7 linked regions of the Homo sapiens genome follow. The protein of the gene in region 1 interacts with the protein of each later gene in a biochemical or structural test. Each region holds a gene or a part of one and is shown in the gene's direction. Other genes may lie near its edges. The genes, in order: MAPK3, SREBF2, HDAC6, MAPT, CREBBP, PTPRB and PTPN7.

Region 1 (3,308 bases):
AGACCCTTTCAAGGCTGATTCTTGTTTTCTTTGTTTTTTGTTTGTTTGTTTTTAGATGGAGTCTCCCTCTGTTGCCCAGGCTAGAGTGCAGTGGCTCAATCTCAGCTCACGGCAACCTCCACCTCCCAGGTTCAAGCTATTCTCCTGCCTCAGCCTTCCAAGTAGCTGGGACTACAGGCGCCTGCCACCACGCCCGGCTAATTTTTGTATTTTCAGTAGATGCGGGGTTTCGCCCTGTTCACCAGGCTGGCGTCAAACTCCTGACCTCAGGTCATCAACCCACCTTGGCCTCCTGAAGAGCTGGGATTACAGGCATGAGCCACCATGCCTGGTCTCAAGGCAGATTCTAAAAGACAGCCCTGACTTATTTTTCTAGAGACAAGCCAAACAGCATTTGTGGATTTATTTATTTATTTACGCATAAGCTTTTTTGTATCTTCAAATAGAAAAAGACATTTTACTCCTCCATCTTCTGAGGTATGGCCAAGCACTCTCCTTTGAGTGGGAGTGTGCTGTTGGGAGTGTCTCCTCATTTTTCTTGCACAAACCATTCCCATAAGGCAGGCATTTATTTTTAAGCAAACATTTATTGCATGCCAGATGGTGTTCATACATTATCTCATTTAACTCCCTCAACAGCCATGTGACTCAGGCATTCATATTAGTAATAATAGTTCATGTTTGCCTAGCACTCACAACTTGCCAAGCACTGGGCTGACAGCTTTACATGCGCCATCTCATCTAGTCTTCACAACCACCCTCAAAAGAACCATTATTTCATGGCTTGCACCTGTAATTTCCAGCACTTTGGGAGGCCGAGGTGGAAGGAACACTTGAACCCATGAGTTCAAGACCTGCCTGGGCAACAGAGCAAGAGCCCATCTCCACAAAAAGAAAACAAACAAACAAACAAAAAAACATTATTTCCCCTACATACCAGATGAGAAAGTTGAGGCACAGACAGGTTGAGATCCTAAAGCCAGTGAGTAGTAGAGAGGAGATTTCAGACATCCATGGGTTAACTCCAGAGTTGCTGCTCTTTTTGTAGGTTTTTTTTTTTTTTTAATTTATTTATTTTTGAGACAGAGTCTCACTCTGTCATCCGGGCTGCAGTGCAGTGACACAATCTTGGCTCACTGCAACATCTGCCTCCTGGGTTCAAGTGATTCTCGTGCTGCAGCCTCCTGAGTAGCTGGGATTACAGGCACATGCCGCCGTGCCCAGTTAATTTTGCTATTTTTAGTAGAGACAGGGTTTTGCCATGTTGCCCAGGCTGGTGGTCTCAAACTCCTGGCCTCAAGCAGTCCTCCCGCCTCAGCCTCCCAAAGTGCTGGGATTACAGGTGTGAGCCACCACTCCTGGCCCAAGTTGCTGCTCTTAACTGTGAAGTTCTCCTGCCTCCCACAGTTTATTATTATCCCCGTTTCCCCGGTAGGGAAACTGAGGCCTCAGAAATGAAGCCCCTTGCTCAGGATCAGCAACTGTGATGCAACAGAGGCTCAGAGCCCTGCCGCTGGGTAATGGCAGCAGCTTCCCCAGCTGGTGGTGCAGGTTGGCAGATCTATTGAGTCCCAGGGGCCCTGGCTGGAGGAGGTGTGCAGCCTCGCCTTCAGAGCCTGTTTTCCTTAACCAAGTGCCTCCCACTGCCCCCTGCCTGGGGGGGTCTGCGGAACCATCCTCAGCTACATTGTGCAGGACCTGATGGAGACTGACCTGTACAAGTTGCTGAAAAGCCAGCAGCTGAGCAATGACCATATCTGCTACTTCCTCTACCAGATCCTGCGGGGCCTCAAGTACATCCACTCCGCCAACGTGCTCCACCGAGATCTAAAGCCCTCCAACCTGCTCATCAACACCACCTGCGACCTTAAGGTCAGAGGGTTGGGCACCTGTCCCCTCCTCCCCCAGGGTCTGGGGCTTCCAGTGACCAGTAGAAGAAGCCTTGGGCAGGAGAACATTGCAAGCAAAGGGAACAGTGGAGGCAAAGACAAGGGGGCGTGACTGCTTAGGCTGCAGAGGCCTTGAGCGCCGAGCTTAGCAGCTAGGTCTGATTCCAGATTTGTGATTTCGGCCTGGCCCGGATTGCCGATCCTGAGCATGACCACACCGGCTTCCTGACGGAGTATGTGGCTACGCGCTGGTACCGGGCCCCAGAGATCATGCTGAACTCCAAGGTAGGAGGGGCTGCCCACTCCTGAAAGGAACGGACCAGTTCCCAGGAAGCCCTGGAGCTACCTCTGAGCCAGACACTGACCCCCATGACACAGGAATTCTACCCTCTGGGCCTTGGGCTCTGCAAGGAAGCTGAGCATTGAGCCCTCCAGGCCTCTGCCTTCTGCCTGGTGTTGGATCTAACTTGGAGGTGGTGGCCTGGCGCAGACAACAGGACCCTGTTGAGGCTGGCCCAGGAGCTCACCACTTCCTCCTCTCCCCCAGGGCTATACCAAGTCCATCGACATCTGGTCTGTGGGCTGCATTCTGGCTGAGATGCTCTCTAACCGGCCCATCTTCCCTGGCAAGCACTACCTGGATCAGCTCAACCACATTCTGGGTGAGGGAGGCCCGGCTGGCTGAGTTGGGGATGATTAGCTTTTCCGAGGTGAGATTTCTCGAGAGTCCAAGTCAGGGATACCACCACGTGTGGGGTGCCTCCAGCATCTCATGGTATCTCAATGAGGTATAGATATTATCCCCATTGGATAGATGGGAAAAGCAAGGCTAAGTCCCACACCTGAGGAGGCACCAGACCTAGGATTTGAGCCTCGGTCTGCCTGAACCCAGCCCCCTTGCTCTGCACCACCATGCTAATGACTAGGAGGTGACTGAGGGATTGGCATGGGTTGCTGGGCTGGGGGGTCTTGTTCTTGCCTTGTTGCCTATTCTGTTCCCAGAAAGAAAGAGGTGATCATTTACCAAGTCACCTCCTTATCCACAGGCATCCTGGGCTCCCCATCCCAGGAGGACCTGAATTGTATCATCAACATGAAGGCCCGAAACTACCTACAGTCTCTGCCCTCCAAGACCAAGGTGGCTTGGGCCAAGCTTTTCCCCAAGTCAGACTCCAAAGGTTCGAGAGACATGAGGGTGGGTGTGGGATAAACCTTGGGTGTCGTGGAGGGTGTGTGAGCCCAGCAGCCGCTGGAGGAGACAGGCAAAGCAATGCTTCTCGGAGCTCCTCCAGTCTTCCCTGTGACCCCTGACTCCTGCCCTTCCATAGCCCTTGACCTGCTGGACCGGATGTTAACCTTTAACCCCAATAAACGGATCACAGTGGAGGAAGCGCTGGCTCACCCCTACCTGGAGCAGTA
Region 2 (3,500 bases), on another chromosome or scaffold:
CTGACTTCAGGTGATCCACCTGCCTTGGCCTCCCAAAGTGCTGGGATTACAAGCATAAGCCACCACCCCTGGCCTATTTACATTTAATTATGATTTATTTTTCCTATCCTTCTGCAAGCATATATATATATATATATATATATATATATATATATATACACACACACACACACACACACAAAATATCAAAATATATATATATATGTATATATATATATATTTTTTTTTTTTTTTGAGACTGAGTCTCGCTCTGTTGCCCAGGCTGGAGTGCAGTGGCACGATCTCTGCTCACTGCAAGCTCTGCCTCCCGGGTTCACTCCATTCTCCTGACTCAGCCTCCCGAGTAGCTTGGACTACAGGCGCCCACCACCACGCCCAGCTAATTTTTTGTATTTTTAGTAGAGACGGGGTTTCACCGTGTTAGCCAGGATGGTCTCGATCTCCTGACCTTGTGATCCGCACGCCTTGGCCTCCCAAAGTGCTGGGATTATAGGCGTGAGTCACCGCGCCCGGCCCAAAAAATCTTTGTGTTTTTTTGTTTGTTTGTTTTGTGTTCAGAGAAGGGATCTGGCTAGGTGCCCTGGCTCATGCCTGTAGTCCCAGCACTTTGGGAGGCCAAACCGAGAGGTTGCTTTTCAGGAGTTTGAGACCAGCCTGGGCAACATGGTGAAATCTCGTCTCTACAGAAAATACAAAAATTAGCCGGGCATGGTTGGCGCACACCTGTGGTCCCAGCTACTCAGGAGGCTGATGTGGAAGGATCGCTTGAGCCTGGGAGGTGGAGGCTGCAGTGAGCTGAAATTGCAACACTGCACTCCAACCTGGGTGACAGAGCAATACCCTATCTCAAAAAAAAGAGAGACAGAGTCTCGCTGTGTTGCCCAGGCTGTTCTCAAACTCCTGACCTCAAGTGACCCTCCCACCTTGGCCTCACAATGCACTGGGATTACAGGCATGAGCCACCACAACCGGTCTCAGCAGCTTTCTGTTTGTCAGATATACAAATATACCCCAGGCTCCAGGCCCCCACATCCCCCAAAAAACACACACACACACACACACACAGCATCAGAGACCTGAGAAGGACATCTTGGTGGAGGTTTGGGGGAATGGAGATGGTTCCTTTTATTTTTTTATAGTGGTGGTGTGGTGGTTTTTGTTGTTTTGGTGTCTAAATCAGAGCATCACATGGCCTTGAAGGTTTGGAAAGGAGGGGCCATAGTTCAAGAACAAGCAGTAGCTTCTTGGGAACGTATTGGAGAGAGAAAAGAGAAAAGAATATGGACAATGTAGAGAATTGTAGGTCTGAAACTATCTGGGACAAAGCTGAGGCTCCTGACTTCTATAGGGACCAGTCATATGAAAAAGAAGGGAGTCGTGAGAGATGATGGGGTAGTTGTGGGTTAAGTTGGGTTTTGGAAAGCCTTTGGGAAGATTGACCAGGGAAGAGGCCCTGGAAGTAGGCTTGAGACCCTTTGGGCTGGGAATTTAAGGGTCCCAGCTACTTGGAACATGATCTAGAAAGGGAAGCGAGGTCTCCAGGTGGACAAATCCCTTTGGACCCAAGACTCCTTGCCCAGAGAAAAGGGGCACAACCAGACAAGGGCTAGCATGGGCCCTGGGAAGCACGGAGTTCAGGGTGGGGCAGGCTTGCTGTGTCCTGGCCTGGCAACATACCTGCACTGTGTTGTGGTAGAAGAACACAAAGCTGGGAGGCAGAGAACTGGTTCTAATCCTAGCTGTACCCTGACAAGCTGTGTGACCTTGGCCAAGTTACTTTCCTCTCCTGGACTTCATATATGGTTTTTCCATTCTTTGCATCCCTGAAGCTCCATGACTTAGGGGCCATCAACTTGGTTGTCCCTGAGTGTTTCCAAGAATACCAACAGTGCCCAGGGTTTTACTCAGCTTGGAGAGGAGGCCTAGAGCCTCCCTGTGGTGAGGAGGAAAGAGGTTAGAGCAAGTTTGGGTCTGCAGTGCTAGGATTAGAGGTGGCCTCACAAGCCAAAACCGCTATACTCACAGCCTTAGGACAGTGACTCCCTACTCGCTGCCTCAGTGTTTCCAGCTGTAAAAAAGGACCCTTGGTACCTTCGACAGAACAGCACCCATCTAGTACAAAGGTAGTTCCTTTTATGATCAAAACAATCAGGAAAAAGAGAGAGGCTGGGTGCGGTGGCTCACACCTGTAATCCCAGCACTTTGGGAGGCTGAGGTGGGTGGATCACCTAAGGTCAGGAGTTCGAGACCCACCTATCAATATGGTGAAACCCTGTCTCTACTAAAATTACAAAAATTAGCCGGGCATGGTGCCGTGCACCTATAGTCCCAGCTACTCAGGAGGCTGAGGCGGGAGAATCGCTTGAACCCAGGAGGCAGAGGTTGAAGTAAGACAAGTTCGCGCCACTGCACTCCATCCAGCGTGGGCGATAGAGGAAGACTCCGTCTCAAAAAGAAAAAAGAAAGAAAATGAGAGAAAGGGCCTGGAGGTGAGTGTGAGGAGGGAAAAGAACATCAAACAGATAAAGTCCTGTCCTGTTGTCCTGGGACCTTGGGCAGCCATCTTGGCCCAGATGATCCCCACAAGAAAGAGGTAAGGGTTTCCTGACCCATTTCTGCCATGGTCTTAGGAAAGTCATTGAGTTTTCATGCCTTAGTTTCTTAAGCAAGTTTGAAAGTTCACTTTTTGGATAGCAATAAAATTACTCCTTTTCTTTTGTTCACAGAGATGCTGCAATTTGTCAGTAATCAAGTGGGAGAGTTCCCTGACTTGTTTTCAGAACAGCTGTGTAGCTCCTTTCCTGGCAGTGGTGGTAGTGGTAGCAGCAGCGGCAGCAGTGGCAGCAGCAGCAGCAGCAGCAATGGCAGGGGCAGCAGCAGCGGAGCTGTGGACCCTTCAGTGCAACGGTCATTCACCCAGGTCACATTACCTTCCTTCTCTCCCTCGGCGGCCTCCCCACAGGCTCCAACTCTGCAAGTCAAGGTTTCTCCCACCTCAGTTCCCACCACACCCAGGGCAACTCCTATTCTTCAGCCCCGCCCCCAGCCCCAGCCTCAACCTCAAACTCAGCTGCAACAACAGACGGTAATGATCACGCCAACATTCAGCACCACTCCGCAGACGAGGATCATCCAGCAGCCTTTGATATACCAGAATGCAGCTACTAGCTTTCAAGGTGATTCAGAAGTTAGAATGGTAGTGGTTGGTTGGTTCCAATGTTTATGTGCCAGTTTGCAGACACTGTAAATATTTCTGTCGTCTTCAGGAATGGCAGGTATATCAATATGGTCCTGTCTGAATGAGGTTCTGGTAACTGGCAATAAGAACTGGTACAGGAGCATGTCACATTCTGCAGCTTCAAATACCTTAATATCTATTGCGCCTAATTCAAAAATACTTGGTTAAAAAATCCAGCAAGCGGCCGGGCGCGGTGGCTCACGCCTGTAATCCCAGCACTTTGGGAGGCCAAGGCGGGCGGATCACGAGGTCAGGAGATTGA
Region 3 (3,205 bases), on another chromosome or scaffold:
CTGTATAGATTGAGCGCCTGTGGTTGTGAGGATTGAGTTAATATGCATGAAGTACTTAAAATCGGGTCTGGCACACAGCAAACAATAAATGTCAGCTGTTACTAATGCTTTTATCAGTATTGTTATCTTGCACTTTACATCACAATTTACTCCCCACAACAACCACCTTACACAGTGGGTGCTGCCTATCTTAAAGGTGTGGGTTCTGTTCACTTGTTCTCAGTACTCCCCCTCCCTCTCCAGACTTGCAGGGCTCAGTAGGGAGGATTGGGGAGGCAGGACATGTTGTCCTCCAAATTCCCCAATGAACCCCCACCATACCTTTCCCTCCCCTTTTCCTTAACAAAGGGTGGCTATAACCTGACATCCATCTCAGAGTCCATGGCTGCCTGCACTCGCTCCCTCCTTGGAGACCCACCACCCCTGCTGACCCTGCCACGGCCCCCACTATCAGGGGCCCTGGCCTCAATCACTGAGACCATCCAAGTCCATCGCAGATACTGGCGCAGCTTACGGGTCATGAGTGAGTGGATTTGGGGGTGATGGGGGGAACCCAGGGAAGGAGGGGGCTGAGGGGCAGAGATCAGAGGCAGGAAGGGTGACAGTACCCACACTCAAGGATCTCCCTCCCTGGTTCCAGAGGTAGAAGACAGAGAAGGACCCTCCAGTTCTAAGTTGGTCACCAAGAAGGCACCCCAACCAGCCAAACCTAGGTTAGCTGAGCGGATGACCACACGAGAAAAGAAGGTTCTGGAAGCAGGCATGGGGAAAGTCACCTCGGCATCATTTGGGGAAGAGTCCACTCCAGGCCAGACTAACTCAGAGACAGCTGTGGTGGCCCTCACTCAGGACCAGCCCTCAGAGGCAGCCACAGGGGGAGCCACTCTGGCCCAGACCATTTCTGAGGCAGCCATTGGGGGAGCCATGCTGGGCCAGACCACCTCAGAGGAGGCTGTCGGGGGAGCCACTCCGGACCAGACCACCTCAGAGGAGACTGTGGGAGGAGCCATTCTGGACCAGACCACCTCAGAGGATGCTGTTGGGGGAGCCACGCTGGGCCAGACTACCTCAGAGGAGGCTGTAGGAGGAGCTACACTGGCCCAGACCACCTCGGAGGCAGCCATGGAGGGAGCCACACTGGACCAGACTACGTCAGAGGAGGCTCCAGGGGGCACCGAGCTGATCCAAACTCCTCTAGCCTCGAGCACAGACCACCAGACCCCCCCAACCTCACCTGTGCAGGGAACTACACCCCAGATATCTCCCAGTACACTGATTGGGAGTCTCAGGACCTTGGAGCTAGGCAGCGAATCTCAGGTAAGGCTCACCACACCCAGGTAGGGGCAAGAAGGGGCAAGAATCGGGCTTCTCTGATACATCTCTTACTTCTGCGTGTCCAGGGGGCCTCAGAATCTCAGGCCCCAGGAGAGGAGAACCTACTAGGAGAGGCAGCTGGAGGTCAGGACATGGCTGATTCGATGCTGATGCAGGGATCTAGGGGCCTCACTGATCAGGTGAGCTCAGGGAGAGGCTGGGACTGTGGCTTCCTTCTCTTGCCAATTTGTGTCTCCAGGTAGGAGCATGTGATGAATAAACATATAATGGGGAGATGGGGTCTTCAGCTTACCTAGTTTCACCCACCCACTCCAGGCCATATTTTATGCTGTGACACCACTGCCCTGGTGTCCCCATTTGGTGGCAGTATGCCCCATACCTGCAGCAGGCCTAGACGTGACCCAACCTTGTGGGGACTGTGGAACAATCCAAGAGAATTGGGTGTGTCTCTCTTGCTATCAGGTATGGAGCAGAGGAAGGGGATGGGGCGGAGGTTGGCCCGGGAGCAAACTGCAGGGGGATGCTGACCCCCACCTGACACTCACACCCCCAACCTCAGGTCTACTGTGGTCGTTACATCAATGGCCACATGCTCCAACACCATGGAAATTCTGGACACCCGCTGGTCCTCAGCTACATCGACCTGTCAGCCTGGTGTTACTACTGTCAGGCCTATGTCCACCACCAGGTGGGCCCTGGGTAGACCCTTCGACACGTGCACACTCACCCCCCACACACACACCCCTTCTGTGATTGGGTAAAGGGAGACCACAGGCCCCTCTGCATGGCTGCCTCATGTGATTATTTTGCATGGGGCGGGGGCTGTGGGATAGTCCAGAAGACAGAGTGGTTGAGGGCTGGAGTGGGGGCAGCCCTGCAGCCGAGGTAGAGGGGTCCTCACTCTCTCTCACCTGCCCTATTCTTGCCTCCTCCTCAGGCTCTCCTAGATGTGAAGAACATCGCCCACCAGAACAAGTTTGGGGAGGATATGCCCCACCCACACTAAGCCCCAGAATACGGTCCCTCTTCACCTTCTGAGGCCCACGATAGACCAGCTGTAGCTCATTCCAGCCTGTACCTTGGATGAGGGGTAGCCTCCCACTGCATCCCATCCTGAATATCCTTTGCAACTCCCCAAGAGTGCTTATTTAAGTGTTAATACTTTTAAGAGAACTGCGACGATTAATTGTGGATCTCCCCCTGCCCATTGCCTGCTTGAGGGGCACCACTACTCCAGCCCAGAAGGAAAGGGGGGCAGCTCAGTGGCCCCAAGAGGGAGCTGATATCATGAGGATAACATTGGCGGGAGGGGAGTTAACTGGCAGGCATGGCAAGGTTGCATATGTAATAAAGTACAAGCTGTTAAAAAACCTGGAGAAAGCTTTTTGACTTTGAGCAGGTGGAGAACCCCACATCCCTGGCCAGCAGAGCCGATGAGTAATGAAGGAATGAGGGAGTGGGTCTCTGTCAGGTCAATCCCCTGCCCATCCATTGCCCCCAAAAAACTAACTGAAAATAGAGCAGCCATCTTGACTGGCTCCACGGGATATAAAATGGTAGAATCCATGAGAAAATGGGTGCTTGCCTTATAAATAGGAGCCTCACAGCCAGTCCCAGCCACACCCACACCCTAGGCTGAGAAGGCAAGAAAACTAGCAGGAAGTATCCTTACCAGGCCTGTTTCCCCACTGTCTCATTGGCCTGACTGGGGATGGTGGGAGGTCCAGGTTTAACTTGAATGTGGTGGTCATGGTAGCTTCTTGGCAGAAGGGGTGCCTGCCATTGACCACAGGTGGGAAATTGGAGGACAGTCTGAGAGCTGAATTTCTCCCACGTGGTGAGAATTGCTTTGGCAGCTCAAGGGAGTTGG
Region 4 (3,500 bases), on another chromosome or scaffold:
AGCACTTTGGGAGGCCAAGGCAGGTGGATCATTTGAGGTTAGGAGTTCGAGACCAGCCTGGCCAACATGGTGAGACCCTGTCTCTACTAAAATTACAAAAAATTAGCTGGGCGTGGTGGCGGGCACCTGTAGTCCCAGCTACTGGGGAGGCTGAAGCAGGATAAGTGCTTGAACCCAGGAGGCAGAGGTTACAGTGAGCCAAGATCACACCACTGTACCCTAAGCCTGGGCGACAGAGTGAGACTCTGTCTCAAAAAATAAAATAAAATAAAGTTAAGAGAGAAAAAAATATATCCTATATCCTTTGTTAAATTCCAAAACAGTAGGGGACAAATAACTGACTTGACAGGTTACTACAATATTTCCTGAAATGATGTTTTCTTGAATACTGGCCTACTAGAGGTTCATAGGTGTGTTTGGATTAAAAAAGAGTTCCATGGCCCAGTGACTGGGGGAAAAAAATAAAAGACTAAAGTAAGTTAAACAGGCTTTTCTGCTGCAGGACTTGTCAGAGCCTTTAATGTACTAATGGCCATTGTGACCCTCTGAGAAGGTCACAGAGTGGGTTTCCCAAACTTACTTGATTCTACCTGCTAACATTTCCTGGAGGAAGTTTGGGAAATGCCGATTTAGCAGATTCTTTTGTTGTGCCGTGGATGGTGCTGGTTGATGTGGGCAAAACAAAGAACACGTGAGTCAGATCCGCCTGGGGCTCTTACTAAAGTGCAGGTTCCCAGGTGCCACTTTAGGCTTACAGACCCAGTTGTGGGGTAAGCCTGGGAGTCTTTTAGCAGGTGATTCTGCCACATAGTATAGTTGGAAAACCTCTGGGCATACTCATTGCTGGTCCCTCTAGAAATCCAGGTGACAATAGCCAATGAGAAGCTCCAAGAGACCCAGTTGTCCATGGGGTAGAGGGAATGTGATATTGAAACCAAAGAAGAAAATCTATGATCAGTTTTCAGCAGTGACTGTCAAGAGAAGGAGAAGGGTGAGTTAGCGCTGATGCTGGCTGACAGGTCAGCGGGTTGGTTTCACCAAGGAGTGTGATGAAGGCTGATGTTGTCTGTGGGAATGTATGATGGTAACTGGTTTGTAGCTAATTTGGGGAAGCAGTGAGAATTCGTGCCCTTTGAAGACCAGTAAGTGGCAAGAAACCCACCAGGCCTGGCTCAGGGCTGGGCTGGGCTTGGCTCGTCTCAGAGCAGCTGGGGCTGGTGGCCAAAGCCACCATTAGTGAGGGGCAGGCCCTGGGGGTACAACCAGCAACTAGGGGACAAAGACAACCCTGCCAGCCTCTCCTATTCTGGAGGCGTGTGACCAGAAATGGAGATGGGTTGGTCAGCATAAGATGGCCAGGAAGGTGGAAATCAGGACTGCTGGCAATCTAGCCACATGGGCAGGGGAGCCGGGTGGTTCCAGGCAGTTTCCAAGGCCAAGAGGGTGAGCAGGCACCTCACAGGGAATCAGGGCCAAGCCTGGCTGCAGTGTGGAGACAATGCACCCACCCCCATCCTTGGATCTTGCAGGAGGCTGGGTCCTCACTGAGCTACCAACATCCATGGCCCTGAGGCTTTTAAAACACCCATCCATGGAGTGGGGCTGGTCCCAGTGGGGTGAGGCTGACCCTGGCAGAAACAGGGCAGGAGCCTGTGGGTTAGGGAGACTGCACCTTCCTTAGATAGCCTCCATGCCATCATGTCCCCGTGACAGTTTCTGCTGCGTCCCCTCTGCATGGTCCCACCCTCGGCCAGCCTGCTGCCCCCTCTTGCCAGGTTGCGCTAATCAGTGACCCCAGTGTGCTGTGTTGATACTAACAATGCGAGGCCTAGCAGATTCAAGGGAAAAGAGAACCAACTGGGTTTCCACCAGACCCAACTAAACAAACATGGACCTATCCCAGAGAAATCCAGCTTCACCACAGCTGGCTTTCTGTGAACAGTGAAAATGGAGTGTGACAAGCATTCTTATTTTATATTTTATCAGCTCGCATGGTCAGTAAAAGCAAAGACGGGACTGGAAGCGATGACAAAAAAGCCAAGGTAAGCTGACGATGCCACGGAGCTCTGCAGCTGGTCAAGTTTACAGAGAAGCTGTGCTTTATGTCTGATTCATTCTCATATATAATGTGGGGAGTATTTGTCACTAAAGTACAGCTGTCATTTAAAGTGCTTTGTATTTTGGGGCAGGCTTTTAAAAAGTCCAGCATTTATTAGTTTTGATACTTACCCCAGGGAAGAGCAGTTGGCAGGTTCATGAAGTCATGCTCCTAATTCCAGCTTTCTTAGTGTACTTTCAGTGAGACCCTGACAGTAAATGAAGGTGTGTTTGAAAACCAAACCCAGGACAGTAAATGAAGGTGTGTTTGAAAACCAGCCCTAGGACAGTAAATGAAGCCATCTTCTCACTGCATAAACTGCACCCAGATCTTCGCCCATCCTTCTCAGTATTTCACTTCACCCATTGTTTACTGTCTCAATGACTGGGGAAATGTCTGGGGAAATGCTCCCGTAATTGCACAGTGGCGTTTTTCCTGGAAAATCCCACCATGGCTCTAGATAAGACCTATTTTTCTTAAAGGTATCTAAAATTTCCAGCATAAATTCTGTCTGAAACACCTGAATTTTAATCAGTACTGGAGCCCGGAGGGCATCTCCAGTTGCCACATAGCTCTGAGCATTCAGTGGTGTGTTGAGGGCTGCTCCCGGAAGTGCCTGCAGAGTCAGGGCTCCCCAGCCTCATCTAGTGAGGCAGTGGAAGGGCCTGTGGGGATTTGGAGAGCTGGCCTGGGTCTCTGAAGTGATAGTGACAGCTGCTTGTCAATCACGGTGCACATTTAGTGCTGGGGGCAGGGGGCAGGGAATACCAGCCTCATGCATGCATGCATTCATTTGTTCCTTCCTTCATTCATTCATTCAGTACACATGGGTACAACATCCCTGCCCTGGAGTTGCCCAGAGTCTAGGGAGGGGAAAGATCTATTACCCTGGGCCTCGGCCAGCTGGGGAGTGCTGCTGGTGGAGAGGGGCCGTGTGCAGCGAGGGAAGGAGGAGTCGTCAATACCCCCACCCCAGCTTTGCTTTCTTGTCATCAGCCCCAGGGCCCCAGCCTGTGTCCCTCCTCTCCCATTGCTACTTCATCTCCTGGGTCCTCCTTACCAAGCCTGACCACACAGAGGGCCTTGGCCGCTTCCATGGGGAATTGGAAAGCAATAAGATAGCATCCCCTAGAAGCCCAGTGAAGTCTGGGACAGGACCCTTCTCTGAGCTCTGACTTGCTCTTGGAAACACTTCGAGGCTTAGCCTCCCCACTTTGTTTCCCGAGAGTGTGACCTGTTCCCCTCCAAACACCCCCTTCTCCTCCAGGGCCATGCCCACCCGTCAAAATCCCCCACGGGCAGGACGAACTGTGGGTGTCAGTCACCATCTATCCTGCATCCTGGTTCCAGGGCCCCCCCCAGCCCCGCCTCCATAGGGACAGGCGTGCAGACACCCGTCCCT
Region 5 (3,500 bases), about 26 Mb from region 1:
GGCAGGTGGATCACCTGAGATCAGGAGTTCAAGACCAGCCTGACCAACATGGTGAAACCCTGTCTGTACTAAAAATACAAAAAATGAGCCAGGCGTGGTGGCGGGTGCCTAGCGTAATCCCAGCTCCTCAGGAGGTGGGGGCAGGAGAGCCACTCGAACCAGGGAGACAGAGGATGCGCTGAGTCGAGATCATGCCATTGCACTCCACCCTGGGCAACAACAATGAAACTCTGCCCCCCGCCCGCAAAAAAAAAAAAAGAAAAAAGAAAAAAAATGTTCCTCCTGCCCCTTGCTGTTAAACCTTCCCTGCCCCAGGCGACCACTAATCTACTTTGTCTCTCTGAATTTGTCTTTTGTGAATCCTTTGTGTAAACGGAACCCTGCAGCGTATGCTGTCTTGGGTCTGGCTTCCTTCTCTAGCCCTTGGTTTCTGTACTCTAGACCTGCCCCATTCCCTTCTGAAACTTGAAAAGGATAGGGGCATTTGATCAAAGTGTCTTGAACAGAATGAATGAGGTTTATGTTGACATTGACCCTTGGAGAAAAATAGTCAACCGAACTGCCTTTACAGTGCACAGGAGGAAGGGGATGGCATTGCCTTGATGAGCCATCATATTCCCTGGTTCTTTAATGAGGCCTCAGGTTTCTTTTGCAGCCTCGGCCCTGCCCTGTGTGTGCACCCCAAGGGAGAAGTGTTGCAGGGCTAATTTGCAGGCTTGCATTTGCTCAGGATAAAGTTCGAGCCTTGCCCCCACCACACCCAGCTTTGTGGGCATTCATTCTCTCTCTCTGGTTACTTCTGTCCTGGCTTTAGTCCTTGCTCCTCTGCTATAACTCCTTAAAGGCAGGGCCGATTTCACTGGCACGTTCATCTGACGTGTGTGCGTGGGTCCTGCAGGTATGTGACAGGGCACATCTGGGCCTGTCCTCCAAGTGAAGGAGATGATTACATCTTCCATTGCCACCCACCTGATCAAAAAATACCCAAGCCAAAACGACTGCAGGAGTGGTACAAAAAGATGCTGGACAAGGCGTTTGCAGAGCGGATCATCCATGACTACAAGGTACCCGGCGCTGAAGGAAGGTGGTGGCTTTTGTCACAACTGAGGGGAGGATATTTGTGTGCCTTTTTCTTGCATTCGCATACTTGTTAATTACCTTCACTTATGAGGATTAGAAAGCAGAAAAATAAAAGCCTAAAGTGAGAACTTAGAAGCATTTTCTTCAGCTGATTGAGGCTTTCCCCTGGCCGTCTGAGAGCAGCACAGTTGGAGCTGTTTCCATCAGTGGGCATTGGGGCCTGTGCATCACTGTTGCACACATAGGGGCTCCAGCACTGTGGTGGGGGGTGCACATGTGTGGGGGTCTGCTGCACTGTGGTGGGGGGGCACACATGCATGGGACTCTGCCACACCATGGTGAGGGGCACGCTTGCGTGGGGGTCTGTCGCACCATGGTGGGGGGCACGCGTGCATGGCCCTCATCTCACTGTTGTGCTTTGCCCACTCAGGATATTTTCAAACAAGCAACTGAAGACAGGCTCACCAGTGCCAAGGAACTGCCCTATTTTGAAGGTGATTTCTGGCCCAATGTGTTAGAAGAGAGCATTAAGGAACTAGAACAAGAAGAAGAGGAGAGGAAAAAGGAAGAGAGCACTGCAGCCAGTGAAACCACTGAGGTACAGACCCTTCTCTGAGCTCCATTGCCCACGTGTCCCGCTGGAGCTGCAGGGTGGCAGGCTGGGAGGCGCGTGTCGACTGTTAGGTCCTTCCTGTGGTGGTGTCTCCGTTCACACATGCACGTCGACACCACCTGCAGCACAGGGCGTTGGTGGGCAGCAGTGTGGGCTCTGCACTCTCTGCACAGTGGATGCTCTGGGGAGCTGGGGGTCCACTTAGACTCGGAGAGGGAAGAGAGGAAGACAGAAAATGGGACATGGGGCAGTCAGGACACAACCCGCTGATGTAAAAAGTGAGTCGAGGAGGCACAGGGTTGCCAGGCCTTATTCCGTGTTTGGTGGCCACTCTGCACATGATGCTCATGCCCTGCTGCCCTCTCTCCTTGGCGCTGCCCCTGAGTGCCAGGCAGTGCAGACTGAGCCAAACAAAACCCCATCCCTGGCCAGGCGCGGTGGCTCACACCTGTAACCCCGCACTTTGGGAGGCCGAGGCAGGCGGATCACAAGGTCAGGAAAGGGAGACCAGCCTGGCTAACACAGTGAAACCCCATCTCTACTAAAAATACAAAAATTTAGCCGGTTGTGGGAGGGGGCACCTGTAATCCCAGCTACGAGGGAGGTTGAGGCAGGAGAATCGCTTGAACCCGGGAGGCGGAGGTTGCAGTGAGCCTAGATTGCGCCGTTGCACTCCAGCCCAGGAGACAGTGCGAGACTCCGTTTCAGAACAAACAAAACCCCATCTCCGCCCCCAAGGGAGTGGCTGTGTCCTGGTAGGATGTGAAACAAAAAGAACCCAGACCCAAGCATGGTGTGCTCTGAGCGTGGCAGAGCTCTGAAGGGGAAGGAGCCTTGGGGAGGTGGCGTGTGGGCCAGACCCGCCCACCACAGGAAGGTGCTGGAAGAGGACCCGCCAGGCGGTGGGAGGAGGCGCGCTGTGTGCGGGTTTGTGCGGCTGTCTGGGGAAGAGATGATGGTGGCGTGGGTGTGGGCTGTAGCTGTAGGTGCAGGGAGAGCGATGACGAACGTTGAAGGCTGCAGCCCCAGAACTTGGGACAGGCGATTGTGACCAGTGAGGAAAAGCGGTGAATGGAGGTGGCTCTTGCGTGGGCTGCTGCCATGGGTGAGGCAGCCGGGAGCCGGCTGGGGACATACTGCCACTCTGGTGCCTGTCCCATATGAGAGCACGTCTGTGAGGTGGGTGCCGGATGGGCTGTAGGCGGAGCGTGGGGCCTGGGCCGCTTCCGCCACACACACTCGTGCTCACTGCACAGGTGGTTGAGAGGCAGCCACCTGCTGGACGGCGCCCCAGAGTGTCATTCGCAGGACAGAGGAGGCGCGGGCAGGGGGTGGCGTGGGTTTACGCCCTAGGTGGCTCCTAAGCAGAGCTCCTGGCCTGTTGTCTTCGGACTTGCTCCCGCTGGAGTGTAGCTGGTCTCACTGGTGTCTGGTGAGTTAATGCTTGAGTTCCATCTCCTAAGGGTGACACGGGAGGTTACCGCGTCCGAGACAGGCTTTGCGCAGCTGAGTTCCACCCCAGGAGGGGGCACCTGCCTGTGGCATGGCAGCAGTGGGGTTGTCCAGAAGACAGGCCTGATAGGGGCTCCTGCTGGGGCAGCCTTCCCTGTGCACCGGGGACATGCATGTGTTAGGAGGCGGGATGCTGAGGTGTCGGCATGTAGACCTGCTGTCCCTTGTGTGTTTGGTTCATGGACAACAATGGGCAGGGACATGCCTTCGTCAGCAACACCCCAGGAGCTCGCTCTGGGGGTCAGCCTTAGTGAGGGCTGGTGCGTGGGGTGGAGCACTGCTTTGCTATTAGCTC
Region 6 (3,500 bases), on another chromosome or scaffold:
TAATTATGCATGAAGTAGTGCTAGTGGTTTATTTGGGGAAGGGAGATGTTGCCAGTTCCTTGAATGTGATTCATAAATTATTATGTAGGTAAACTCTGATCAGTTCCTTTCCTGAAATGTCTTCTCATTTTTCTCCCTAGTTCCAGAGCCTGTTAAGGATCTAACATTGCGCAACAGGAGCACTGAGGACTTGCATGTGACTTGGTCAGGAGCTAATGGGGATGTCGACCAATATGAGATCCAGCTGCTCTTCAATGACATGAAAGTATTTCCTCCTTTTCACCTTGTAAATACCGCAACCGAGTATCGATTTACTTCCCTAACACCAGGCCGCCAATACAAAATTCTTGTCTTGACGATTAGCGGGGATGTACAGCAGTCAGCCTTCATTGAGGGCTTCACAGGTAATGTGAAATACTGTTCTTGAACCTGAATAGATGCAGTGGTGCATTTAACTTTCGGGTAGTTCAGGTATTTCGATTGAGCATTTGGAGGGATAAAAGGGAGACAGCAAGAAGGGACAAAGTCATGTTGATAGTGACAATGATGTTGTCCAACCTGGATGAATGAAAATAAAGTATGATGTCAGCAGAGAGTGGCGGGGTTGGAGGGTGCTTTCAGAGAAATAGCAATGAACTGATGTGATCAGCTGGTGCTTCTGAGGCACACAGATTAAGAATTAAGTGTTACTTGGGTATCACTTCTTTAGAACTCTTTTAGGAGTGTTGCCATAGTAGTTAACATGTACTGACAGTTCACCATGAACCAGACCCACAGCAAAGCATTTTATGTCTACATCTTGTTCAGTCTTCACAATGCTTTGGAAGCCAAGGCAGGAGGATAGCTTGAGCCCAGGAGTTCAAGCACAGCCTGGGCAACATGACAAAACCCTGTCTCTACAAAAAATACAAAAAAATTAGCCGGGCACGGTGTTACGTGCCTGTAGTCCCAGCTACTGGGGAGGCTGAGGTGGGAGAATCACTTGAGCCCAGGAGGTATAGGATGCAGTGAGCCATAATCATGCCATTGCACTCCAGCCTGGACAACAGACAGAGACCCTACCTCAAAAATAAAATAAAATTAAATTAAAAAAGAATCAATCTTCACAACTCTATGGGCTGGTTAGTATTATCATCACTGCCATTTTTCCTAATGAAGAAACTAAAACTTACAGAGGTCAAGTAATTTGCCTGTAGTCCCACAGCTAGTGAGTGAGAAAACCAAAACTTGGACCAAGACACCCTAACTAGCCCCTCGCTATATAATTAGCATTCCTCATTTCCACTCACCGGCTTTGACTTCCCCCTAAGCTTTCCCCCATCAACTTTAGTTCACACAGAAAAATCAGAGAAAAGTGGCAAATTGTTACTTTCTTTTTCATGTGAGTTCTCTCAGTGGGTGCCAAAACATCAGAAGCATTCAAAACTTTGTTTGAAAATTTCAACAGTTCATTCTCTAAGTGATGACTTTTAAATTTATTTTCTGTTTTAGTTCCTAGTGCTGTCAAAAATATTCACATTTCTCCCAATGGAGCAACAGATAGCCTGACGGTGAACTGGACTCCTGGTGGGGGAGACGTTGATTCCTACACGGTGTCGGCATTCAGGCACAGTCAAAAGGTTGACTCTCAGACTATTCCCAAGCACGTCTTTGAGCACACGTTCCACAGACTGGAGGCCGGGGAGCAGTACCAGATCATGATTGCCTCAGTCAGCGGGTCCCTGAAGAATCAGATAAATGTGGTTGGGCGGACAGGTAAGCATCCACCTGGAGAAGGGCTAGATTGTAGAATGCCTCATGGTTCTCCAAAATGGGACAGTGAACGGGCTCAGCTATTCACAAATCCAGATTTAAAACCACCAAAGTTTGTACAATTCAATGGTTTCAAGAGCCTTACTCATTTATTCTTTGTATTTTTCTCTTAATAGAGATCTGCAAAACAAATGAAAGGGAATCAGAAACCAAATCATTTGAACACATTTTTATACTTGCTAAAGGATAATAAAATTTTAAATTTTAACAAGCAGGCTGGGCACAGTAGCTCACGCCTGTAATCCCAGCACCCTGGAAGGCCAAGGCAGGTAGATTGCTTGAGTTCAGGAGTTCGAGACTAGCCTGGGCAACATAGCTAAACCCCATTTCTACTAAAAATACAAAAAATTAGCCAGGCGTGGTGGTGCACACCTGTAGTCCCAGCTGCTTGGAAGGCTGAGGTGGAAGAATCACCTGAGCCCGGGAGGTCAAGGCTGCAGTGAGTCGTGATCGTGCCACTGCACTCCAGCCTGGGCAACCGGAGTGAGACCCTGTCCCAATAAATAAGTAAATAAATAAATAAATAAATTTTAATAAGGAGACTTCCATAATTATGCATTTTTCAAAAGTTCTACCTTTTAAGAAAGAGTACACATCTGTGCCATCTACTTTACCTGGTAGAGCTAAAAAAACAAGTATCAAATGTATGAATAATATATCTGTTTATATCAATATCACTATTCATGTATTATTTTTGAAAGATCTCTAGCCATACTATAGTTCTCTTACAGATGAGGAAAGAACAGTTCAGAAAGCTTGTAAAACAGTATCAAGGATACGTATATAACAAGACCTAAAGCTATAATTCAAGTCTAGGTCTGTCTGGCCCCAAACCTCGTGCCCTCTCCACTGTGACACAATACTTCTTAGATGTCTCCCATTCTCATGACCACTTATTTAGTTGTGGGGTCTGGGGCTTCTATACCATGCCCTACTATGCCTCTATTTCATATCTATATTTATATCTATATCTGCATATCTTTAACCCTATGACAAATCCTGTGTTAGAAGTGGGCATTCGGGCCAGGCGCGGTAGCTCACGCCTGTAATCCCAGCACTTTGGGAGGCCAAGGTGGGTGGATCACAAGGTCAGGAGATTGAGACCATCCTGGCTAACATGGTGAAACCCCGTCTCTACTAAAAATACAAAAAATTAGCTGGGTGTGATGGCAGACGCCTGTAGTCCCAGCTACTCGGGAGGCTGAGGCAGGAGAATGGCATGAACCCAGGAGGCGGAGCTTGCAGTGAGCTGAGATCATGCCACTGCACTCCAGCTTGGTGACAGAGTGAGACTCTGTCTCCAAAAAAAGAAAGTGGGCATTCAGTAGCAAGGCAAAGCCCCTGACCTCAAGAACCTTATAATCTAGTGAAGGAGATAGAAAAGTAAAAAGGCAATTACAGTAAAACATGGTACGTGCTAAGAAAAAAGTGGTTATGAGATGTTAGAGGAGCAAACAAGAAGAGTCAGGGAAGGCTTTCAGGAGGAAGTAATATTTAAAGAAAGACTAAGAAGTCATCCAGGTGAAGTGTAAGTTGTCTTCGTTCCAACAGAGAAAACAAAGCCCTGGAGGTGAGAGAAAGGATGGCACATTTGGGAACCTACACCTTTTTTAGTATACTAGAATAAAGGCCGGGCACGGTGGCTCATGCCTGTAATCCCACATTTTGGGAAGCTGAGGTGAGTGGAT
Region 7 (4,087 bases), on another chromosome or scaffold:
CCAGCAGGGCCCCCAAGGGGACTGGAAAGCAGAGTACTGCTACCTGCCTCCATCTCCAGAGCCCTATCCCCAAAATATAGCACCTGCAGGTCCCATTTCTTTCTCCATAGTTTGGGGCCTGGCTCTCATATTCCCTGGTCTCCCATGACCTCCCTGTCCCCTCCCTGGCTATCTCCAGTGCAGGGATTGGCCGGACGGGCTGCTTCATCGCCACGCGAATTGGCTGTCAACAGCTGAAAGCCCGAGGAGAAGTGGACATTCTGGGTATTGTGTGCCAACTGCGGCTAGACAGGTGGGTCTGTGGGTGTAAACAAGGCCAACAACGTTAACGGATGGCATCAGTGCCTCTGGGCCCCAGAGTTCTGCTAGGCCCATCACCATCAAGCACTCCTGCAAGAAAGGAAGAAACCCTTTCTGCTTAGAGCTGTTTATTTTACAACTAACAACCAGGAAAAAATATCTATCTGGATGGCCGGGTGCGGTGGCTCACACCTGTAATCCCAGCACTTTGGGAGGCTGAGGCGGGTGGATCACCTGAGCCCAGGAGTTCGAGACCAGCCTGGCCAACATGGTGTAAACCCTGTCTCTACTAAAAATACAAAAATTAGCCAGGCCTGGTGCGGGCCCCTGTGATCCCAGCTACTCAGGAGGCTGAGGCAGGACAATTGCTTGAACCCAGGAGGTGGAGATTGCAGTGAGCCGAGATTGTGCCATCGCACTGCAGCCTGGGTGACAGAGCAAGACTCTGACTCAAAAAAAAAAAAAAAAAAAAACAAAAAAAAGAATATCTGTCTGGAATGTTGGCTTGGATGCCTGGAATTAAACATGATATGAGGCAGCAACAAGTAGTGCAAAGAAGATCACTGGGTGGAGGCAGAGCCGGTGTTCAGATTCTGACATCTGTCTCACTGAGATGTCACTAGATTTCTCTGAGCCCCCATTTCTTTTTTTTTCTTTCTTCTTTTTTTAATAATAGAGATGGGGGTCTCACTATGTTGCCCAGACTAGTCTCGAACTCCTGGGCTCAACAATGCCCACTTGGCTTTGCAAAGTGCTGGGATTACAGGCTTAAGCCACTGTGCCCAGCCCCCACTTCTTCTTTATCTAGACAGAGATAATGGCTCCTTCCCCCAGAAAACTGTTGTAAGAAATGAGTTAACTTATATGAAAATGTTTTGGAAATGGAAACTACTATACAAATGTATGGAATCATTATTTTTACTTTTTAAGATTATTAGAAAGAAGGAAACTTGAGGCTCAGGAGTATTCCTGGCCCGACCCAAGGCTTCAGAGATCTGGTTTTGTCCCAGGAGCTGAGTGGATCAAGGAAGACCAAGTGTCAACATGGGGCATCACCCCTCAGCACGTGTAAGGGGCAGAGGACTTCTCTCACAGCAGATCTGAGGGGCAGCAATGAGGAGTAGAAAGTAGAAAAGATGAATATAGGTGGTGGGGCATGGTGGCTCATGTCTGCAATCCAAGCAGTTTGGGAGGCCAAGATGGGCCAATCACTTGAGGTCAGGAGTTCAAGACCACCCTGGCAACATGGTGAAACCCTGTTTCTACTAAAAATACAAAAATTAGCTGGGCAAGGTGGCAGGCACTTGTAGTCCTAGCTACTCAGGAGATTGAGGCAGGAGAATCACTTGAACCTGGGAGGCAGAGGTTGCAGTGAGCTGAGATCATACCACTGCTCTCCAGCCTGGCTATCAGAGTGAGACTCTGTCTCACAAAAAAAAAAAAAAAAAAAAAAAAGTGAAAAGATGAATATAGGCAAAGGAGTTGGCATGTTCTTTGAGAAAGTCAGGACTTTCCCAGTAGGACCACAGGGATGTTTGACTGGAGCCATTCAGCCAGCACCCTGACCCTCCTTCACTCATGGTCTGTGTGTTTCTCCTTGCAGAGGGGGGATGATCCAGACGGCAGAGCAGTACCAGTTCCTGCACCACACTTTGGCCCTGTATGCAGGCCAGCTGCCTGAGGAACCCAGCCCCTGACCCCTGCCACCCTCCGGTGGCCCAGGTGCCTACCTCCCTCAAGCCTGGGAAGGTGGGTCTGGGGAAAGTGGGCCGAGTGATCTGGGGGTACCCCTTGGGTTGGTGTGGGGAAGGAGTGCCTCCTTAGTGGTGCTTGCAGTCACAGGAAGCAGCAGCAGTAAGGACAAGGGGCCGGATTCCAGGTCTTCAACACTGGCCACTCCTCTGCTTCCTCTGTTGGCCCCAGATGGACAGTAAGGGGAACCTCCAATGTCTCTCTGAACTTAAAGACAGGAGCTGGCATTTATGACAGACAAAGAAAGAAGCCCAGGTGTCCTGGTGTTCTCTGAGACACTCTTTGTGAGCTTCAGTTTCCTGTTCTATAACATGAACATAAGTGCTTAGCTGCCATGAGGGAAAAGTAATGAGAGAAGTTTCTAGAAGCCACTCCAGCCACTCCTTCCTGGGGCTGACAAAAGGGTGATTCCAAGATCATCCTTCACCCGAGGTCCTGCCCAAGCACAGGCCAGATGCAAGAATGGGGAAAAGTCTGGTCCTGATCTCCAAGTCTCAACATCCTATCAGTGACTCTGCTCCCTGACCACACATCGGAAGGGCTGGATGACCCCAATCAAAAGAAAGAACAAGGACTCTGGTTACCCTTGCCTCCACCCATGTGTCATAAGAGTAGGCTACAGAGGTGACCAGGCCTGGCAGTTGAAATCTCTGGAAGAGGGAACATGTGGGGACTACTCAGAGGCAAAGAGGAGCTGCTCCTGCCTCCATGGTTGCTGGCCACTCCCACCAACTACTCTTAGGGAGGCTAAGCAGTCTCTGTTTTGCTTCCATGGCTCAAATAATACCCTGGGTATGCAGGACCCACTATACCTTGCATTTGCTGAGTACACCTAGAGAGCTTGGCTGTTTCCAAAAACAATCAGGGTCATAACCATCCATGCAGACATGGAGGCTCGGCTGAACCAGGACTCCTCACTGTCTACCTGAGAGAATGAGCACCCCTCATCCATCTCAGCATCAACACAATTTCCAGGGGACCTCAGGTCTACCTCAGGACTGAACGCCACACCTCAGGATTCCTCCTCCTTGAATCTGAGACTGGCTGCCCATTCTGAGATGGGGATGAAGGTAAGATGCCGCATCACCAGGCACGCCGCCCCTGACAGCTGCCTTGATACCAGCTCTCTGTGGAAACCCCCGAGGAGTTGGATCTGGAGAACAGCTGGGCCTCCTCACTCAGGACTTCTCTCCTGAAGAACACGCAGTGCTAAAACTGAGGATGATTTCCCTAATGCTTCTGCTTGGCCTTATGGAGGAGCTGCTCCTTCCTTACAGCCTTGGGGATGGACTTGCCCACACCTCCACCTCCCCTGAGCCCTGTGAGAGGCACGACTGTCTATGCCAATGAGGCTCGGTGGGGGGCTCTCAAGTGCCTGATCCTGCCCTGGGCTCAGAGCCAGCCCAGAGGGAAGCAACTGCACAGCCCCACAGGCCCTCCCTGGCACTGTCCCCCCAACCCCATCTCAGAGCTCAGAGGGTACAAGCTCCAGAACAGTAACCAAGTGGGAAAATAAAGACTTCTTGGATGACTGACTCATTCCTTCTTTCCATCTTCTTCTTGGCCCTCTGGGGCCTCTTTGTAGCAAGAGAGAAAGACTGCAGACCAGGGACAGGCAGGCTGCAAATCTTTGCCCTTGGGATATGCACTTTTCTAGCACTTCCAAGGACATAAAGTAAGGTGAAACCAAAGTCAATTTAGGAAGTGAGACAGGGTGGACCCTCATAGCCTACCCAGGCAGCTGTAACAATTCACACTACCGTAAACCATGTGGCTTCTAAACAACAGAAATGTATTGCTGGCCTGGCGTGGTGGCTCATGCCTGTAATCCCAGCACTTTGGGAGGCCGAGGCAGGCGGATCACGAGGTCAGGAGATCCAGCTAACACAGTGAAACGCTGTCTCTACTAAAAATACAAAAAATTAGCCGGACGTGGTAGCACACACCTGTAGTCAGCTATTCGGGAGGCTGAGGCAGAAGAATTGTTTGAACCCTGGAGGTGGAGGGTGCAGTGAGCTATCATGCCACTGCACTC

What was found.
Region 2: of the proteins of MAPK3 (region 1) and SREBF2, one has a biochemical effect on the other in vitro, tested with the Homo sapiens proteins (2 studies listed by BioGRID).
Region 3: the proteins of MAPK3 (region 1) and HDAC6 form a complex in vitro, tested with the Homo sapiens proteins (2 studies listed by BioGRID, with this or other methods).
Region 4: of the proteins of MAPK3 (region 1) and MAPT, one has a biochemical effect on the other in vitro, tested with the Homo sapiens proteins (2 studies listed by BioGRID).
Region 5: of the proteins of MAPK3 (region 1) and CREBBP, one has a biochemical effect on the other in vitro, tested with the Homo sapiens proteins (2 studies listed by BioGRID).
Region 6: of the proteins of MAPK3 (region 1) and PTPRB, one has a biochemical effect on the other in vitro, tested with the Homo sapiens proteins (2 studies listed by IntAct).
Region 7: the proteins of MAPK3 (region 1) and PTPN7 form a complex in vitro, tested with the Homo sapiens proteins (3 studies listed by BioGRID, with this or other methods).

Annotation. Positions count from the first base shown.
Region 1 is NC_000016.10:30,116,913-30,120,220, reverse strand, and holds part of MAPK3 (mitogen-activated protein kinase 3), read left to right. Parts: intron 1-1,682; coding exon 1,683-1,872; intron 1,873-2,057; coding exon 2,058-2,174; intron 2,175-2,436; coding exon 2,437-2,551; intron 2,552-2,935; coding exon 2,936-3,067; intron 3,068-3,217; coding exon 3,218-3,308.
Region 2 is NC_000022.11:41,864,105-41,867,604, forward strand, and holds part of SREBF2 (sterol regulatory element-binding protein 2), read left to right. Parts: intron 1-2,726; coding exon 2,727-3,176; intron 3,177-3,500.
Region 3 is NC_000023.11:48,822,272-48,825,476, forward strand, and holds the end of HDAC6 (protein deacetylase HDAC6), read left to right. Parts: intron 1-348; coding exon 349-523; intron 524-640; coding exon 641-1,317; intron 1,318-1,400; coding exon 1,401-1,514; intron 1,515-1,650; coding exon 1,651-1,797; intron 1,798-1,894; coding exon 1,895-2,023; intron 2,024-2,272; coding exon 2,273-2,341; 3' UTR 2,342-2,705; downstream 2,706-3,205.
Region 4 is NC_000017.11:45,985,054-45,988,553, forward strand, and holds part of MAPT (microtubule-associated protein tau), read left to right. Parts: intron 1-1,986; coding exon 1,987-2,042; intron 2,043-3,500. UniProt on the Homo sapiens protein: Promotes microtubule assembly and stability, and might be involved in the establishment and maintenance of neuronal polarity.
Region 5 is NC_000016.10:3,734,214-3,737,713, reverse strand, and holds part of CREBBP (CREB-binding protein), read left to right. Parts: intron 1-898; coding exon 899-1,064; intron 1,065-1,510; coding exon 1,511-1,678; intron 1,679-3,500. UniProt on the Homo sapiens protein: Acetylates histones, giving a specific tag for transcriptional activation. Mediates acetylation of histone H3 at 'Lys-18' and 'Lys-27' (H3K18ac and H3K27ac, respectively).
Region 6 is NC_000012.12:70,567,930-70,571,429, reverse strand, and holds part of PTPRB (receptor-type tyrosine-protein phosphatase beta), read left to right. Parts: exon of another isoform or gene 1-140; coding exon 141-404; exon of another isoform or gene 405-1,491; coding exon 1,492-1,755; exon of another isoform or gene 1,756-1,932; intron 1,933-3,500. UniProt on the Homo sapiens protein: Plays an important role in blood vessel remodeling and angiogenesis. Not necessary for the initial formation of blood vessels, but is essential for their maintenance and remodeling. Can induce dephosphorylation of TEK/TIE2, CDH5/VE-cadherin and KDR/VEGFR-2.
Region 7 is NC_000001.11:202,146,516-202,150,602, reverse strand, and holds the end of PTPN7 (tyrosine-protein phosphatase non-receptor type 7), read left to right. Parts: intron 1-178; coding exon 179-292; intron 293-1,230; coding exon of another isoform or gene 1,231-1,368; intron 1,369-1,903; coding exon 1,904-1,997; 3' UTR 1,998-3,587; downstream 3,588-4,087. UniProt on the Homo sapiens protein: Protein phosphatase that acts preferentially on tyrosine-phosphorylated MAPK1. Plays a role in the regulation of T and B-lymphocyte development and signal transduction.